Regions from separate parts of the Homo sapiens genome. Here region 1 is linked to region 2. A link means that fine-mapping ties the variant in region 2 to the expression of a gene that starts in the linked region. Tissue or cell type: whole blood. Region 2 holds a variant in brackets; the other region holds the start of a gene. All regions are shown on one strand. Distances are from middle to middle.

Region 1 (5,773 bases), 380 kb after region 2:
GGGCCCGGCCAGCGATGCATCTGAGGTGACAGGTGGGGGACCCTGCACCTCTCTCTGAAAACTGAACCCCAGCCCAGGCATCGCTCCGAGCTCTCAACCCAGGCATCCGAGTGGAAAGTGGCAAGCCCGGGTCCCCCAGCCTTGGTGCTGCCTCCCCTGCGCGCGGGACAGGGGAGAGAGGAAGGAGGGATGCTGGCCTGGAGAGAGGCAGGAGGGACACTGACCTGGAGAGAGGCGGGAGGGACACTGACCTGGAGAGAGGCGGGAGGGACACTGGCGTGGAGAGAGGCGCGCGGGACAGGGGAGAGAGGCGGGAGGGACACTGGCCTGGAGAGAGGCGGGAGGGACGCTGGCCTGGAGAGAGGCGGGAGGGACACTGGCGTGGAGAGAGGCGGGAGGGACACTGGCGTGGAGAGAGGCGGGAGGGACGCTGGCGTGGAGAGAGGCGGGAGGGACGCTGGCGTGGAGAGAGGCGGGAGGGACGCTGGCCTGGAGAGAGGCGGGAGGGACGCTGACCTGGAGAGAGGCGGGAGGGACGCTGGCCTGGAGAGAGGCGGGAGGGACACTGGCGTGGAGAGAGGCGGGAGGGACACTGGCATGGAGAGAGGCGCGCGGGACAGGGGAGAGAGGCGGGAGGGACACTGGCCTGGAGAGAGGCGGGAGGGACACTGGCGTGGAGAGAGGCGGGAGGGACACTGGCCTGGAGAGAGGCGGGAGGGACACTGGCCTGGAGAGAGGCGGGAGGGACACTGGCGTGGAGAGAGGCGGGAGGGACACTGACCTGGAGAGAGGCGGGAGGGACACTGGCGTGGAGAGAGGCGGGAGGGACGCTGGCCTGGAGAGAGGCGGGAGGGACGCTGACCTGGAGAGAGGCGGGAGGGACGCTGGCCTGGAGAGAGGCGGGAGGGACACTAGCCTGGAGAGAGGCGGGAGGGACACTGGCGTGGAGAGAGGCGGGAGGGACGCTGGCCTGGAGAGAGGCGGGAGGGACGCTGACCTGGAGAGAGGCGGGAGGGACGCTGGCCTGGAGAGAGGCGGGAGGGACACTAGCCTGGAGAGAGGCGGGAGGGACACTGACCTGGAGAGAGGCGTGAGGGACACTGGCCTGGAGAGAGGCGGGAGGGACACTGGCCTGGAGAGAGGCGGGAGGGACACTGACCTGGAGAGAGGCGGGAGGGACACTGGCGTGGAGAGAGGCGGGAGGGACGCTGGCCTGGAGAGAGGCGGGAGGGACGCTGACCTGGAGAGAGGCGGGAGGGACGCTGGCCTGGAGAGAGGCGGGAGGGACACTGACCTGGAGAGAGGCGTGAAGGACACTGGCCTGGAGAGAGGCGGGAGGGACACTGGCCTGGAGAGAGGCGGGAGGGACACTGGCGTGGAGAGAGGCGGGAGGGACACTGGCTGGCCTGGAGAGAGGCGGGAGGGACACTGGCCTGGAGAGAGGCGGGAGGGACGCTGACCTGGAGAGAGGCGGGAGGGACGCTGGCCTGGAGAGAGGCGGGAGGGACGCTGACCTGGAGAGAGGCGGGAGGGACGCTGGCCTGGAGAGAGGCGGGAGGGACGCTGGCCTGGAGAGAGGCGGGAGGGACACTGGCGTGGAGAGAGGCGCGCGGGACAGGGGACAGAGGCGGGAGGGACACTGACCTGGAGAGAGGCGGGAGGGACAGGGGAGAGAGGCGGGAGGGACAGGGGAGAGAGGCGGGAGGGACGCTGGCCTGGAGAGAGGCGGGAGGGACACTGGCCTGGAGAGAGGCGGGAGGGACACTGGCCTGGAGAGAGGCGGGAGGGACACTGACCTGGGAAGCCCGCGGCTCGGGGCAGGCGAGGATCAGGAGCAGAAGGAAGAGCGCGCGCGGAGAGCTGGGCACCATCTTGCCAGTCGGAATCCCGCTGCCTGGGAGGGGAAATAACTTTGCCTCCGCTGCCGAGTTTGTCCCAGCGATGCGGCAGCCGTCCCTGCAGGGTGCGGGGCGCCGCGCGGCCGGGGGGCGGCTGGGGCAGGGGGGGAGGCGGGAGGCCCCGAGCGCAGCGCGTCCCGCGGGGATCGGCGCCGCCCGGGCCTTGCGAGGGTCCAGGTGCGCCCGCAGCTGCCCGCACGAGACAGTCCGCGCGAGGCGGGGAGGCGCCGGCCCCTGGGCTAAGGACGAGGGAGGAGGGGCTGCCCGGCCGGGAATGCGCCCGGGAGCGCGCCCAACCCGCGACGCCGAGGACGAGCGCGGGCATCCTCGGGGCCTGGCAGGGATGGGCGGCCAGTGCCCCGCATATGTGCGGGTGACTGGAAGCCCACCCTGGGCGGGTTCACTCCCGACCGTCCTATTTCCCAACCAAGTAGACTGAGGCTCAGTCACCAAGGACAAGTGGCAGAACAGAAACCCAAACCCAGGTCTGTCCTACTTCAAAGCCCACGCGACACCCTCCTCCCGACATTCCTAGAAGGGGGCCAGGAAATGGGCTTCATAAGCTTGACGTGGGGTGGACTGAGCTCTCCATCCGAATAAACTAGTGTCCCTTTAAATAATGCAATGGGGCCGTGAGAACACGCACGCACAGTGAGTAGATACACACACAGTGATACAGTGAGGGGATCTACGTCCTTCTGATTCACTGTCCTCCTTGCTCAAGGGAAGGAGAAACTCAGTTTAAATCGGAGGTCAGGTTCTAGAACATTGCCTGCCTTGCTGAAGTCGAATCAGGAAGTGCCAGGCCGGCATGAGCAGTCTGAAGTCCCCTGCCATCAGGGCTGTGGTACAACCAGATGCCTCAGACCTGAGCTCCCGGAAGGCATGACTGACGTTCTTCCTGGAAGGTTTTCTGAAGGCAGTCACTGCAGATGTCCTGGGACACACAAGTCTGGTCAAGCCCCAGATCTCTTTTTCCTCTTCCACATTTCACTTTGTTGAGCCCACTCAGAGCTCAGGGAACGGGGAGCCCACAAGACTGTGACCACAGAGCAGGAGCTGTTTCCCAGCAGAGGCCAGAAAGGAAAGCTGGAGTCCTGGCTTAGTCCCTTCAAACTGCTATAGCAAAATACCATAAACTGAGTGGCTTATAAACAATAGAACGTGTTTCTCACAGTTCTGGAGACTGGGAGGTCCAAGATCAAGGTGTCAATAGATTAGGTGTTTGGCGAGGGCCAGAGTTCTGGTTCCCGTGTCCTCACAGGGGAAAGGCAGCTCTCTGGGGCCTCTTTTCTGAGGGCACTAATCCCAATTTTGAGGGCTCTGCACTCATGACCTAGTCACCTCCCAAAGGTCCCACCTCCTAATGCCATCATCTTGGGAATGAGGTTTCCAACATATAAATTTAGGGGAGACACCAACATTCAGAACCTAGCCAGTGCCCCAAAAAGCAGGGGACATGGTTTAGGCTGGCCTCCTGGGCATTGGTTGCCCAGGAAATCCTACAGTGCTGCTCCCCCAACCTTCCCATGCAAAGGAGGTGGAACGGGACCCATGTAAATCTTTTTTTTCTTTGAGACGGCGTCTTGCTCTGTTGCCTAGGCTGGAGTGCAGTGGCCTGATCTCAGCTCACTGCAGCCTTGCCTCCCTGGTTCAAGTAATTCTCCTGCCTCAGCCTCCCAAGCAGCTGGGGCTACAGGCATGCACCACCACGCCTAGCTAATTTTTGTATTTTTAGTAGAGACAGGTTTTCACCATGTTGGCCAGGCTTGTCTTGAACTCCTGACCTCAAATGACCCACCCGCCTCAGCCTCCCAAAGTGCTGGGATTATAGGTGTGAGCCACTGCAGCCTGCAAGGGATCCATGTAATTTTATTTTGCATTCCTGGTTGAACATCCTGAAGAGAGACATGGTCATACCCCTGCTTCTCCCTATCCAGGTGGAGAGGACGGGACAGCATGGCCCGATCCAGGGCAGCCTGTGGAGATGGTGGTTTTCTGCCTCGATCTCTCATGTGTTTGCTGTCTGTACCAAAAGCCAGTGCCCTGCTCCCTCTCTGTCTCTCTGTCCTCTGCCCTATCCTTGAAAAGCTTCCTCCTGGTCAGTGTGGCTGCATTTATTAATATTTTGTGTCCTATCCCACCTTGTGTTTACATGGCGACCTTCTCTGGAAGGCCAGCTGTTCTGGCTCTCAGCCTTGTTCTGGCTATGCGCTGGTAACCAGACATCGGGCAGATGTAAGCAAGCCTTCTTTTCTCTTCTCCTGCCCTTTCTGTGGAGTCATAAAGCTGGAAGAGATTCTTGATTTCACAGATGAAGAAGCTGAATCGGGGCATGGTTGACTGACTTGCCCAAGGAATGCAAACTCTGGTCTCAAGATCCCCCTCCCAGAGCGGTGCTGTTTCTAGGACAGACTACCTTTGACTTTATCCCACCTCTCATTTTAGGGCTACTATGTTGCTTATATTAAATACATGATCATAGCATTTCAGGAATTTTATTTACAGTAATGGGGGGTTTTCTGTTTTTTTGTTGTTGTTGTTTTTTGTTTTCTTGGGTTTTTGCTTTTGTTTTTACTTTTCAAATATTTCTAAGTTTCAACAGGATTTTTTTTCCTATGTAATTATTTATATTTGTAACCCTTTCCCTATGGCTGCCTTCCCTCTAAGTGTTCTGGCATCTGGTCTGAATGAACCTTCTAAGATCTGACTGCCCCAGCAGCACTGTCCTTTCTCTGTCTTTGTCCTCAGCTGCCCTGGATCTGCAGTAATCAAGGCAGAGCCTATCAAGTCCAGAACCTACCAAGGCTGTCTACAAGCAGACAGCCCATGAAAATCAGCTGGGTGCTCTACCTTTAAGCCCCCAACCCTCACCTTTAACTGAATACAATGGGCCTATCAGCCTTTTTTTTTTTTTTTTTTGAGACAGTCTCACTCTATTGCCCAGGCTGGAGTGCAGTGGCATGATCTCAGCTCACTGTAACCTCTGCTGCCTCACAGAGGCAATCTATTCTCCTGCCTCAGCCTCTCAAGTAGCTGGGATTACAGGCACCTGCCACCATGCCCAGCTGATTTTTGTATTTTTAGTAGAGACGGGGTTTCACCATCTTGGCCAGGCTGGTCTTGAACTCCTGACCTCGTGATCCACCCGTCTCAGCCTCCCAAAGTGCTGGGATTACAGCCATGAGCCACCATGCCTGGCCCTTATCAGCTAGTTTATTCCTCTATTTCCCCTCTATTTAGTTTTCAAGAGAATATTCCTGAGTGTCGGGGGATTGGTTTGGTGGGGTTCAACATGTCTACAGAAAGTATTTTAAACATCTTTTGGTAAGATCAGTTGCCATCTCCTTGGATTAGTGCTCTGATACATTCAGGTTCTCTGTGTAACATAGGCATGCAACACAAAATGGGAAGATTTGTTGCAGAAATTTGTCTTTAAGACCCCAACAGAGGCCAGGTGCGGTGGTTCATGCCTGTAATCTCAGCACTTTGGGAGCTGAAACAGGCGGATCACTTGAGGTCAGGAGTTTGAGACCAGCCTGGCCAAGATGATGAAACCCTGTCTCTACTAAAAGTACAAAAATTAGCCGAGTGTGGTAGCAGGCACCTGTAATCCCAGCTACCTGGGAGGCTGAGGCAGGAGACTCACTTGAACATAGGAGGCGGAGGTTGCAATGACCTAAGATTGTGCCACTGCACTCTGGCCTGGGCAACAGAGTGAGACTCCATCTAAAAAAAAAAGAAAAAAAAAAGCTGGGTGTGGTGGCTCACACCTATAATCCCAGCATTTGGGAGGCTGAGGTGGGCGGATTGCGAGGTCAGGAGATCGAGACCATCCTAGCTATTATGGTGAAACCCCATCTGTACTAAAAATA
Region 2 (5,773 bases):
TCGTAACCATCAGGCAATGGCAAAGGCCTAGCTTCTAAGTAAAGAACAACTTTGGTGTGTTGACATCGTCCCTTGCAGGTACGGGACTTTCTCTTAAACATTTTGAAAAATCACTCAATTTCTTCAAGATGTAGATGGGAACCACGAAAGGGTCTTGACATCATGAAAGAGGATCTTCAGAAGAACCCTCAGCACAAGAGAATTGAGTCCGAGTGACTTTCCCTGACACGTAAGGCCTTCCACAGAAGGTCCTCTCTTACCTTCCTTCCTCCTTAATGACTCCATGACGCTCATGCTACAACCAGCCTTCTCCCGAGAGAAGCAGAAGTTCCGGAGAGCAGGTTCTCAGGAGCTTCTGTTCCTCTGGGCATCTCCCAGACCTGCAGAGCCCGGGACAGGGTGAGAGCCCACAGGACGCTGCACCTCTTTTGGAAGACTCTCCCCACCAACCTTTGGTGCAGCGGAACCCTCTTTTCTTGCACCCCAGCTCCAGACCCCCCATGTCTAAGATGCCTTCTCTGACTCCTTCCTGCCTCAGGAGGCTCTGAACTTCTGGGTCGCCACATCATAGGATCCTGCTTACTCAGCTTGTCATACGGGTCTCTCTGGCAGTAATGAACTTTAACACTCTCATGGCATCTCCCACCCACCTGAGCACAGGCTAGCTGCTTACATTTTTTACTTTTGAGACAGGGTCTCTCTGTCGCCCAGGCTGCAATGCAGTGGTGCAGTCATGGCTCACTGCAGCCTCAACCTCCCAGGCTCAAGTGATCCTCCCACCTCAGCCTCCCGAGCAGCTGGGACTATAGGCACACAGCACCATGCCTGACTAATTTCTGTATTTTTTGTAGAGATGGGGTTTTGCCAGGCTGCCCAGGCTGGTCTTGAACTCCTGGGCTCAGACAGTCTACCTGACAGTCTACCTGTCTTGGCCTCCCAAAGTGCTGGGATTACAAGCATGAGCTACCACACTGGGCCTATCTGGCCTATACACGGGGAAATAGGAAAGGAAGTGACTCAGCAAAGCCCCCTGCCAGATAGAGTCCTCCCAAGGGTCTCCTATCACTGTGGCATCCTCCCTCACAGCAGTCAAAGTGACTACACTTGTACCCACAGACTATCCCAACTGCAGAACCAACTTCCCACTTGTAAAAACACAATGACGTGCAGGCTTACTGAGCACATGCAGGGGCACCGTTGACCTCAATGAGCCACACCTTCAGCTCCTCATCGACCATGAAGTCAAAGCCGAAGAGCTGGAAGCTCTGGTAAGGGAGGTGCTTGGTGCTAATGGCAGGCTCCACGCTCAGGAGGCAGTTCCTATGAGGCAGGAGGGGAAATGCTCATTAGAACGGGGTGGTCAAAGGAGAAGGAAGACATGAGGTGTGCTTGAAAGATTTTATATGAGATGAATACAAATATCAGCTTATCAGCTTTAATTCTCTGTTTCCTTTTTTTTTTTTTTTTTTTTGAGACGGAGTTTTGCTCTTGTTGCCCAGGCTGGAGTGCAATGGCATGATCTTGGCTCATGGCAACCTCCGCCTCCTGGGTTCAAGAGATTCTCCTGCTTCAGCCTCCCGAGCAGCTGGGATTACAGGCATGCGCCACCGCACCCAGCTAATTTTGTATTTTCAGTAGAAACAGGGTTTCTCCATGTTGGTCAGGCTGGTCTCGAACTCCCGACCTCAGGTGATCCGCCCACCTCGGCCTCCCAAAGTGCTGGGATTACAGGTGCGAGCCATCGTGCCCGGCCTAATTCTCTCTTTTCAACTTATTACCATTAGGTTACTCAAGAGAATGTTACTTATCAAGCATTTGTTAGAAAACTGCAACCACTCGTGTTCTTCCAGGCAAAAGCCACTTTCCCATGTCTCAAGAAGCAGTAGAGTGCCGAGTCATTGTGGCCTCTGTAAATGAAGATTCTTCCAACAGCTGGGCTGCTGCCATGTTTGTTTATAACACGTAAAACATTTCCATGTATTTTTGCCATGTAAAGAATGGACTGCCCTTTGGTGAAGGGCAGGATTTGCAAAAAAAAAAAAAAAAAAAAACATGTTGACCTCACGATGTCGCTAGTTCTAGTTCCAATGGCAAATTATTGCTAATTACAAGATTTAAGAGCTATACATGTTGAAACTAAATGTTGAAATGTAGAAGTATTATTAGCAACAATGAATGGAAAAATGGCAGGATTTTAGTGACACAATAAAAAAGTTGAAAGTGTATTTTGGAAATACAATGAACAAGTACATGAGGTCTCAGGTCAGACCAAAATCTTGAACAAGTGATTGTTCAGTGAGATAATTACATAAGGAACTTGTCATAACTCCTGGCACCTAGGAAGCATTTTAATAAA[T/C]GTTACTGTTATGAACAATTTTTCATCATATTTCCTTATGATAACCATATATCTATTATTTAGGAAGAATAAATACCTCTTATCTACAACTATCCCAGAAAACCTATGCCATTTCTGTTTTATAAAGATCTTCCCTGATTTTTCACCCAACTGAATGCTGGGGCAAAATATTTCTCTCAGTAAATAAAATGTGCTACAATGACTCTGGTGTACCAGAGATAACTGTCCTTCTACACAGCTGTGTATTTGGAAGGAAAAAGATACAGGGGCCAGCCGGGCGCGGTGGCTCACGCCTATAATCCTACCACTTTGGGAGGCCGAGGCGGGTGGGTAACCTCAGGTCAGGAGTTCGAGAGCAGCCTGACCAACATGGCAAAACCCCATCTCTACTAAAATTACAAAAATTAGCCAGGCATAGTGGCAGGTGCCTATAATCCCAGCTACTCCAGACGCTGAGGCAGGAGAATCGCTTGAACACAGGGGGCAGAGGTTGCAGTGAGCTAAGACTGTGCCACTTCACTCCAGCCTGGGTGAAAGAGCAAAATTCTGTCTCAAAAAAAAAAAAAAGAAAAGAAAAAGAAAAAGATACAGGGAACTGTCGTCCATGTGACTAACTCTAAGACGTAGCTCTAGATGCAGGTTTTGACTCATGACTTTAATAAAGAACTGAGGCCTTTGTGAACTTGGAGCCAGGGTCAATCCTCCGCCCTCGGCCCTCCACAAACTTCAATCTCCTTTTCTTTTTTCCTAAAAAGAAAAATATTTTAATTGATACATTTAAACCTTTAAAAACTATTTTGGCTTAAATGGTTCTTTTAAGATGAGTCATTTAAAAACTAATTATAATAAAAATTTCTTCTCCCATTCATATTCAACCTGAATTGACAAGCACACATCACATTAAAAAAAAAAAATCCCTGTTCTACACAAGAATATCCTTAACTTTTGCTTTAATTAAAATACTCTTGGCTGGGCGAGGTGGCTCACACCTGTAATCCCAGCATATTGGGAGGCCAAGGCAGATGGATCACTTGAGGTCAGGAGTTTGAGACCAGCCAGACCAACATGGTGAAACCCTGGCTCTCTACTTAAAAAAAAAAAAAAAAAAAATTAGTTGGCTGTGGTGGCGCATGCCTGTAATCCCAGCAACCCAGCAACTCAGGAGGCTGAGGCAGGAGAATCGCTTGAACGTGGGAGGCAGAGGTTGCATGAGCCAAGGCTGCAGTGAGCCGAGATCATGTCACTGCACTCCAGCCTGGGAAACAGAGCGAGACCCTATCTCCAAAAAAAAAGCAGGAGACAGGGTCTCACTCTGTCGCCCAGGCTGGAGTGCAGGGGCCCAATCATGGCTCACTGCAGTCAGCCTTGACCTCCCCGAGCTCAAGCGATCCTCCCAATTCAGGCTTCCGAAGTAGCTGGGACTACAAGCATGCACCACCACACCCTGCTAATTTTTTTTGTAACTTTTGGAGACAGAGGTTTGTCATGTTGCCCAGGCTGGTCTTGAACTCCTGGGCTGAAGTGATCTGCCTGCCTCAGCCTCCCAAAGTGCTGGGATTAGAGGCATGAGCCACCGTACTTAGCCTGTTTTAATTAGAATATTCTTTAAAATATTATAATTAAGGAAGATTTAAAAGTTTAACAGATGCTTATGGTAAAAAAGAGAGAGAGAAAAAAATACTAAAATATAAAATGGGGGCTGGACACAGTGGCTCATGCCCGTAATCCCAGCACTTTGGGAGGCTGAGGGAGGCAGATCACTTGAGGTCAGGAGTTCAAAACCAGCCTAGCCAACATGGTGAAACCTCATCTCTACTAAACATACAAAAAATTAGCACTGAGTGGTGGCACATGCCTGTAATCCCAGCTAGTCGGGAGGCTAAGGCAGGAGAATCGCTCAAACCCGGGAGGCAGAGGTTGAAATGAGATGAGATTGCGCCACTGCACTTCAGCCTGGGTGACAGACCAAGACTCTGTCTCAAAAAAATAAGATAAAATAAAATTGAAAGAAGTATTACATTCCAACATAAAGAAAAACCTGAGAATCAGAAGCAAATCAAAACTAATTTTTTTTTTTTTTTTTTTTTTTGCTGAAAGCTCAAGATTAATAATACACTTTAAAGGATTTTTATCCCTCATCAGAGACTTATACAGTGCATCTTTTTTTGGCTGGAGTGGGAAGTTAGGGGGAGGCTAGCTGGAAGGAAAGAAAACCTGAGAGCTGCTGGGAGCATTTATAGCACCACAGCAGCAACACTCTGAACAGCAATGAACAATGCGGAAAGGATGCCGCAAACTTCCAATAAAGCTTTTGCCTAAAATAGGAATTCTTTTTCCAGCATATTTGATTTATCTGGTGTCAGAATTCCAACCACCTATATTCCCTGAAGAAATGGGACTCCAAGCCCTGTAATTATTCTACTGGGCTCTACGTGAGAATACAGTAAGGAAAAAGTCTCAGTCATTGTGACAGGGTAGCATTGACATGGTGGATGGTAGAACAATGGGACAGAATGGAGATCCTAGAACAGACGCTCACATAAATGGCCACCTGATTGATTGATTGATTTCTGAGATGGAATCTTGCTCTGTTGCTCAGGCTGGAGTGCAGTGATGCGATCTTGGCTCACTGCAACCTCCACCTCCCGGGTTCAAGCAATTCTCCTGCCTCAGCCTCCCAAGTAGCTGGGATTACAGGCATATGCCACCATGCCTGGCTAATTTTTGTATTTTTAGTAGAGACAGGGTTTCACCATATTGGCCAGGCTGGTCTTGAACTCCTGACCTTGTGATCCACCCACCTTGGTCTCCCAAAGTGCTAGGATTACAGGTGTGAGCCACTGTGCCCAGCCAGCCACCTGATTTGTAACAAAGACACACCACAATGCAGCGGGGAAAGGACAAGTGGCCCTGGGTCAATGGGATATCCTTGTGGAAAGACATGAAACTTGATATATAACAACTTCAGATAGATTATAGTTCTAAAATATAAGAGATAAAACCCAGATGTCTACCAACTACAGAAGGAATAAACTGAAATACTTATACAATGGAATATTACACAGTAATAAAAAGGATAAACTACTGTTATGTGCAATAACATGGATGAATGCCACAGATGTAACACTGGGAAAAGCTGAACATAAAACAGGAAATATGGTATAATTCCATTTACATAAAGTTTAAGAACAAGCAAAATGAATCTAAGGTGATAAAAGTCAGAAAAGTGGCTGTCTTTGGCAGGGCATTTATTTATTTATTTATTTATTTATTTATTTATTTATTTATTTATTTATTCTGAGATGGAGTCTCGCTGTGTCGCCCAGGCTGGAGTGCAGTGGTGTGATCTTGGGTCACTGCAAGCTCCACCTCCGGGGTTCAAGCGAATCTCCTTCCTCAGCCTCCTGAGTAACTGGG

What was found. PIP is the estimated chance that this variant, and not a neighbour inherited with it, causes the effect.
Region 1: it holds the start of FBLN7, and the variant in region 2 is fine-mapped to the expression of FBLN7 in whole blood (INTERVAL, PIP 0.96).

The regions. Positions count from the first base shown.
Region 1 is chr2:112,134,754-112,140,526 of GRCh38, reverse strand. It overlaps FBLN7 (fibulin 7), which reads right to left and starts at 2,142. Exons shown (of 8, transcript NM_153214.3): 1 at 1,797-2,142. The coding sequence starts at 1,871. RefSeq lists an enhancer at 1-325.
Region 2 is chr2:112,515,829-112,521,601 of GRCh38, reverse strand. TTL (tubulin tyrosine ligase) reads right to left here. Exons shown (of 7, transcript NM_153712.5): 6 at 1,177-1,320. Among named protein-coding and RNA genes, the nearest start is that of POLR1B, 24 kb to the left of the region's middle. The variant T/C (reference allele first, on the strand shown) is at 2,357.